Linked DNA regions of Homo sapiens: region 2 is reported to be linked to region 1. Evidence: microRNA targets listed by miRTarBase, many of them from high-throughput screens and not tested one by one. Region 1 holds a microRNA gene; the other region holds the end of a gene's coding sequence.

What was found. The annotated mature microRNA hsa-miR-6507-3p reads CAAAGUCCUUCCUAUUUUUCCC and lies in region 1 at 1,729-1,750, shown strand. An mRNA with a match to its seed (bases 2 to 7 or 8) in the 3' UTR can be bound and repressed. Matches are read on the target gene's strand: a 7mer-m8 pairs with bases 2 to 8, a 7mer-A1 pairs with bases 2 to 7 and ends in A, and an 8mer does both.
Region 2: miRTarBase lists MAD2L1 as a target of hsa-miR-6507-3p. Seed matches in the 3' UTR shown: 7mer-A1 at 1,084-1,090.

What each region holds. Positions count from the first base shown.
Region 1 is chr10:98,922,836-98,926,251 of GRCh38, reverse strand. MIR6507 (microRNA 6507) reads left to right here and starts at 1,684; the gene lies at 1,684-1,753. All of the region lies in intron 3 of HPSE2 (heparanase 2 (inactive)), which reads left to right.
Region 2 is chr4:120,057,254-120,060,669 of GRCh38, reverse strand. It overlaps MAD2L1 (mitotic arrest deficient 2 like 1), which reads left to right. Exons shown (of 5, transcript NM_002358.4): 5 at 380-3,416. The coding sequence ends at 552. Among named protein-coding and RNA genes, the nearest start is that of MAD2L1, 7.9 kb to the left of the region's middle.

The DNA.
Region 1 (3,416 bases):
TTTAAAAAATAAAACTTAAAAATGATGTATTTTCCAATAGCACGCATTTGTGGCTTTATAAATTCATTCAATAAGTTACTATGGCCATACAAAAAGCATGCCCTTTTGAGGTTCACTTTCTACCAGGGGGATATAGATAATAAAGAATGTATATTCAGTATTTTAAAAGGCAATGACACCTACTTCTACTGCCAAAAAGACAGAGTAAATATACTTTCCCCTATTCCTCCTATTAAGGGTAACTAAAAACTCTAAATATTATATATAAAAAACATGTAAGAAGACTCAGAGGTTGAAAAGAAGTCAGCCAAGAACCCAAGGAACAACATGATGGTGAGTTCCCTGGGTTTTCTTCTTGTCTTTAATATCCCAAACTTGGCGCTGAAGAAGCTGGAAACCTGGAAATCTCAATGAATACAAACACAAAAGACCCCAACAAAAGCCAGTTTTCTCTAGCCAAGGAGAACAATAAAGGACCAATCTAGCAAGACAGAAAGGTTTTACACAATAACCACTCCACCCTAGCCAAATGTCATAAAAAATTTGTGTCCTATTTCTCACACAAACAAAGGCTGAGTAGGGAGCCTGGACTTACCCTCATGAAACTCTAATGTGCTCCTGCAACATCCTTGCCAGGATGGTGTCCAAGTAGAGAGCCTGCACTTCATCCCCATTGGTTGATATTGAGGGAACACCCTCCCACTTCACTGCAGTATTAGTTGAGACTCTGGAGATGTGGAACTTACCCACCTGCTCAGCAATAATGAGGAGCCTCCCTTTGGTGTGAATGAAGGCTGAATGGGCAACCTGGACTTTGACATCCACCTGGCAGAAACAAAGCAGTGCCCTCACTTATACCCTGCCAGAGCAGTGTCAAAAAAAAAAAAGCCAATTAAAATAAAAGGTTTAAATAAGATCTAGGGAGGTGGAGCAAGATGGTTGGGATAGAAGCCTTCACTGTTTGTCCCTCTGGCTTGAACACCAAATCTTAACAACTATCTGTACACAGAAAAGCCCCATCACAAAAACCAACAATCAAGTGTGCAATCACAGTACTTGGATTTAACGTCATATTCACAGTACTTGGATTTAACGACAGAGGCATTGAGGAGGGCAGAAGAGATACTTTAGAATCACTGACACCACCTCACCTCCATCCCCTAGCAGTGGCCATGCAGTGCAGAGAGAGAACTTGAGCACTTTGGGGAGGGAGAGCACAGCTGCTGGGCGACTTTACATTGAACTCAGTGCTGCCCTGTTACAGTGGAGAATAAAGCTGTATTGAGCTCAGCCATTGCCTGTGCACAATGGGAGCATCTGGACCAGCCCTAGCCAGAGGGGGGTCACCCATCCCAGTGGTCCAAACTTGAGTTTCTGTGCAAACCTCACCACTTAGGGCTAAAGTGCTCTGGGGTCCTAGGTAAACTTGAAAGACAGTCTAGGACACAAAGACTGCAATTCCTAGGCAACTCCTAGTGCTAGGCTGGGCTTCAAGCCAGTGAACTAGGAGTGGAACATGACCTAGGGAGACACCAGCTGGCACAGCTATGGGAGAGTAAAGAGAAGTCATCCCTCCCCCAAACCCAGGATTGCAGCTTGTAGCAATGGAAGTGACTGTTTCTTTCCGTTTAAGGAGAGGAGATCAAAGTTAAAGGGTACTTTGTCTTACATCTTGTGGAAAGGGGAGGGAAGAATAGGAGGGACTTTGTATTGTGGTTCAGTACCATGCAAAGTCCTTCCTATTTTTCCCTCCACTTTACTTCCTTTCCCTCAACTTAGCTTCCGTAGAATAGAACATCACATAAGTTTCTAAGGTTTTTGACTCCAACTTCTGGCTCCCAGACAGCATCTCTGGACACACCTGGAGCCTACAAGAACTCACTACCCTGACGGGAAGGGCCTTGGGCAAGGCCCATTGCTGTGCTGGCTTTGGGTCTGACCCAGCACAGTCCCAGTGGTGGTGGCCACAGGGGTGATTGCATCACTACACCCCCCAGTTCCAGGTGGTTCGGCACAGAGAGAGAGAGACTCCATGTGTTTTGGGGAAAGTAAGGGAAAAGAACAAGGGTTTCTGCCTGGTAATCCAGAGCATTCTTCTGGATCTTACCCACAACCACCACAGCAGTACCTCTATGAGTGTACAAAACCCACCGTATTATTGGGCTTGGGGCCCAAGTCCCTTTGAATACCTAGAAAACCTTCCCAAGAAAGACAGGCACAAATAAGCCCAGACTGTGAAGACCACAATAAATACATAACTCTTTAATGCCCAGATGCCAAAGAACTTCTACAAGTGCCAACATCATTCAGGAAAACATTACTTCACCAAATGAACTAAATGAGGTACCAGGGATCAATCCCAGAGAGATAGATATATATGACGTTTCAGACAGAGAATTCAAAATAGCTGTTTTGACGAAACTCAAAGAAACTTAAGATAACACAGAGAAGGAATTCAATATTTTATCAGGTAAATTTAACAAAGAGATTGAAATAATTAAATAGAATCAATCAGAAATTCTAGAATTGAAAACTGTAGTTGACATGCTGAAGAATTTATCAGAGTCTCTTAATAGCAGAATTGATCAAGCAGAAGAAAGAATTAGTGAGCCTAGAGACAGGCTATTTGAAAATACACAGTCAGAGGAGACAAAAGGGAAAAAGAATAAAAAAGAATGAAGCATGCCTACAAGATTTAGAAAGTAGCCTGAAAAGGACAAATCTAAGAGTTATTGGCTTTAAAGAGGAGGTAGAGAAAGAGATAGGGATAGAAAGTTTATTCAAAGGGATAGTATCAGAGAATTTCCCAAACCTAGAGAAAGATATCAACATTCAAGTAGAAGAAGTTATAGAACACCAGGCAGATTTAACCTAAAGAAGACTACCCCAAGGCATTTAATAATCAAACTCCCAGTGGCCAAGGATAAAGAAAGATTCTAAAAGCAGCAAGAGAAAAGAAACAACACACAGTGGAGCTCCAATAGGTCTGGCAGCAGACTTTTCAGTGCAAACCTTACAGGTCAGGAGAGAGTGGCATGAGATATTTAAAGTGCTGAAAGAATAAAACTCTTATCTTAGATTAGTATATCTTGAGAAAATATCCTTTAAGCCTGAAGGAGAAATAAAGACATTCTCAGACAAATAAAACCTGAGGGATTTCAATACCATACCTATCCTATAAGAAAGGCTAGAGAGAGTTCTTCAATCTGAAAGAAAATGATGTTATTGAGCAACAAGATATCATCTGAAGATATAAAACTCATTATTACCATAGTAAGCACACAGAAAAACACAGAATAGTATAACTTTGTAGTTGTGATGTATAAACTTATCTTGACTAAAGTAGAAAGAATAAACGATGAACCAATCAAAGATAACAGCTACAACAACTTTTCAAGACATAGACAGTACAATAA
Region 2 (3,416 bases), not on the chromosome of region 1:
AGTATGAACCCTATATAATGTTTTTTTCTTATGCATACATACCTATGATAAAATTTAATATGTAAATTAAGCATAGTAAGAGTTAATAATAAACTGGAACAATTATAACAATATGCTGGCATCACTATTCTTGTGCTTTGGGACCATTATTAAATAAGATAAGGGTTACTTGAACACAATCACTAAATTGCACGGAAGTTAGATACAATATTTTCTTTACTGAAATAAATGTTCATTGAGCAAAATAAATTAACTAGTGATTGGAGACCAAGCCAAATGACCTTTTCCAGCAGTGAGTGGTTCAAAATAGAAGAGAGGCAGCAAGATTAGTTTTACTTTTAGAAAATAATATACTTCAATGATCTTATCCCCAATTTAGGTTCATTTGATCTGCTGATTTATACAGACAAAGATTTGGTTGTACCTGAAAAATGGGAAGAGTCGGGACCACAGTTTATTACCAATTCTGAGGAAGTCCGCCTTCGTTCATTTACTACTACAATCCACAAAGTAAATAGCATGGTGGCCTACAAAATTCCTGTCAATGACTGAGGATGACATGAGGAAAATAATGTAATTGTAATTTTGAAATGTGGTTTTCCTGAAATCAAGTCATCTATAGTTGATATGTTTTATTTCATTGGTTAATTTTTACATGGAGAAAACCAAAATGATACTTACTGAACTGTGTGTAATTGTTCCTTTTATTTTTTTGGTACCTATTTGACTTACCATGGAGTTAACATCATGAATTTATTGCACATTGTTCAAAAGGAACCAGGAGGTTTTTTTGTCAACATTGTGATGTATATTCCTTTGAAGATAGTAACTGTAGATGGAAAAACTTGTGCTATAAAGCTAGATGCTTTCCTAAATCAGATGTTTTGGTCAAGTAGTTTGACTCAGTATAGGTAGGGAGATATTTAAGTATAAAATACAACAAAGGAAGTCTAAATATTCAGAATCTTTGTTAAGGTCCTGAAAGTAACTCATAATCTATAAACAATGAAATATTGCTGTATAGCTCCTTTTGACCTTCATTTCATGTATAGTTTTCCCTATTGAATCAGTTTCCAATTATTTGACTTTAATTTATGTAACTTGAACCTATGAAGCAATGGATATTTGTACTGTTTAATGTTCTGTGATACAGAACTCTTAAAAATGTTTTTTCATGTGTTTTATAAAATCAAGTTTTAAGTGAAAGTGAGGAAATAAAGTTAAGTTTGTTTTAAATTTGTCTTAAAACATTTTGATACTGGTTTGGTGTTGATATAGTTAAATGGTAATTAGAATTGATTCAGCATAGCTAATGAATTCTTGTTCCTACGAAGTTATAGAACTTAAGGGTCCAAAGTTGAGTGAGTCTTGAGGTGTCTTCAATCTAATGGATAAACTTTGATCACATCCTGTTCATCTCATAGCAATAGACTTAAGGCTATTACTTCATCATTGTGAAAAGATAAATGTCCTTTGGAATTAGTCCAACAATTCCAGTTGAACAAGTGTTGATTTTAGTACTTTACTATACTCTTAGCCTTATTGTCAGCCTACTTTTCCTTATATACTTAAATACTATGCTTATTCCTGTGCTTTCATTAATACCCTCATCTGGTACATGCTTTCTATCCAGTTCTCACCTGTTTTTCCAAGGTCAGTTTAAGGCAGATTTGTAAAGTCTTCTCTAATCTCTAATCTAAATCTGACCTCATTTTGTAAAAATTCAGTTTATTAATGTTTATTATTAGACACTAAGTTCTTTATGTGTATTAACTTATTTAACCTTCACTATTTTTAAGTAATTGCACATAGTCTGAATCTGTTCATTCAGAAATTACATATTGAGCAAATACTGTGGATCAGTGGCAGTTTCTGGGTTCTCAGTGACAAATTTGTAGACTCTTCATATCTTTATGGAATAAGTGGACCACTGGTGTTACCAACCTAGATGATTTCAAGAAAAGTGGCAATTAAATGCTTCATTTGTATTTTAACTATTTGAGAAGTCAGACTAAATTCTGCGAAATCACTTTTCCCCCCCAAGATGGAGTCTTATTCTGTCGCCCAGGCTGGAGTACAGTGACGCAGCTCAGCTCACTACAGCCTCTGCCTCCCGGATTCCAGCCATTCTTCCGTCTCAGCCTCCTGAGTAGCTGGGATTACAGGCACGTGCCACCACACCTGGCTAATTTTTATATTTTTAGTAGAGAGAGGGTTTCACCATGTTGGCCAGGCTAGTCTTGAACTCCTGACCTCATGATCTGCCCGCCTTGACCTCACAAAGCATTGGGATTACAGGCGTGAGCCACTGCGCCCGGCTGAAATCACATTTTTAAAGGTTGTGTGTATACTCTGGTCATTTCAACTCAGCTACCAATATTAACAGGATTAAATTCTTAGATTTTTGTATCATTTGCATGCTACTATTTACTCTGAGGTTTCTGGAGAGCTAGTCATGATGAGTCATTTTACCCCTTACAGATTATATAATCAATTAAGAAATACACATTTTGGGCTGGGCGCAGTGGCTCGCGCCTGTAATCCCAGCACTTTGGGAGGCCGAGGCAGGTGGATCACGAGATCAGGAGTTTGAGACCAGCCTGGCCAAGATGGTCAAACCCCGTCTCTACTAAAAATATAAAAATTAGCTGGGCGTGGTGGCGGGCGCATCTCAGCTACTTGGGAGGCTGAGGCAGGAGAAATCGCTTGAACCCATGAGGTGGAGGTTGCGGTGAGCCAAGACCGTGCCACTGTACTCTAGCCTGGGCGACAGAGCAAGGCTCCATCTCAAAAAATAATAAATAAAAAAGAAATACACATTTTGGAGCTGAGTGGGAGCCAAACTATGAGTTTTATTGAGGTGAAGCTATACTGGAAAAGCTTTGCCCTGTAGCTCCAAGTGGACTGTCCCATCCTCTTTCTAGACCTTGAGGCTTACCTCAGGAGGATGATGTTTAAATCAACAGCTGAAAGACTTGTGAGTGGTTTCTACACCATGTTAAAGAGAAGGTTCTAAGACAGCATGATAGGCCTCTAGGCCTGGCCTGGACTCTGGCTCAGTGTTGCTTACCATATGTAGAGGATGAACAGAGGTTAAGCCCATCAAGGTCTGAAGTAGAGCCCAGGAGGAACTGAACTGTATCTGGCTTTCAGGATCCTTTTCCCAGTGTCATCAATCAGAGAAGTCAAACCTCTGTGAGAATGCTTGTGCAGAGGTATAACAGTCTCATGTATTGGTTGGCTTTTGCTGCACCTTTCTCATTCTGTTGGAGGGACATTGGTTAGTCAGGACTCTGAAGGCCAGCTTTTTCACACTGACCAAAGCAAGTGAAGGTCAAGCCTAACTTTAATGGGACCAGGAAGTATACTCCTCCCATGGAGGTGGTGGGAATGGCACCGAGAAGTTTGATGACAGT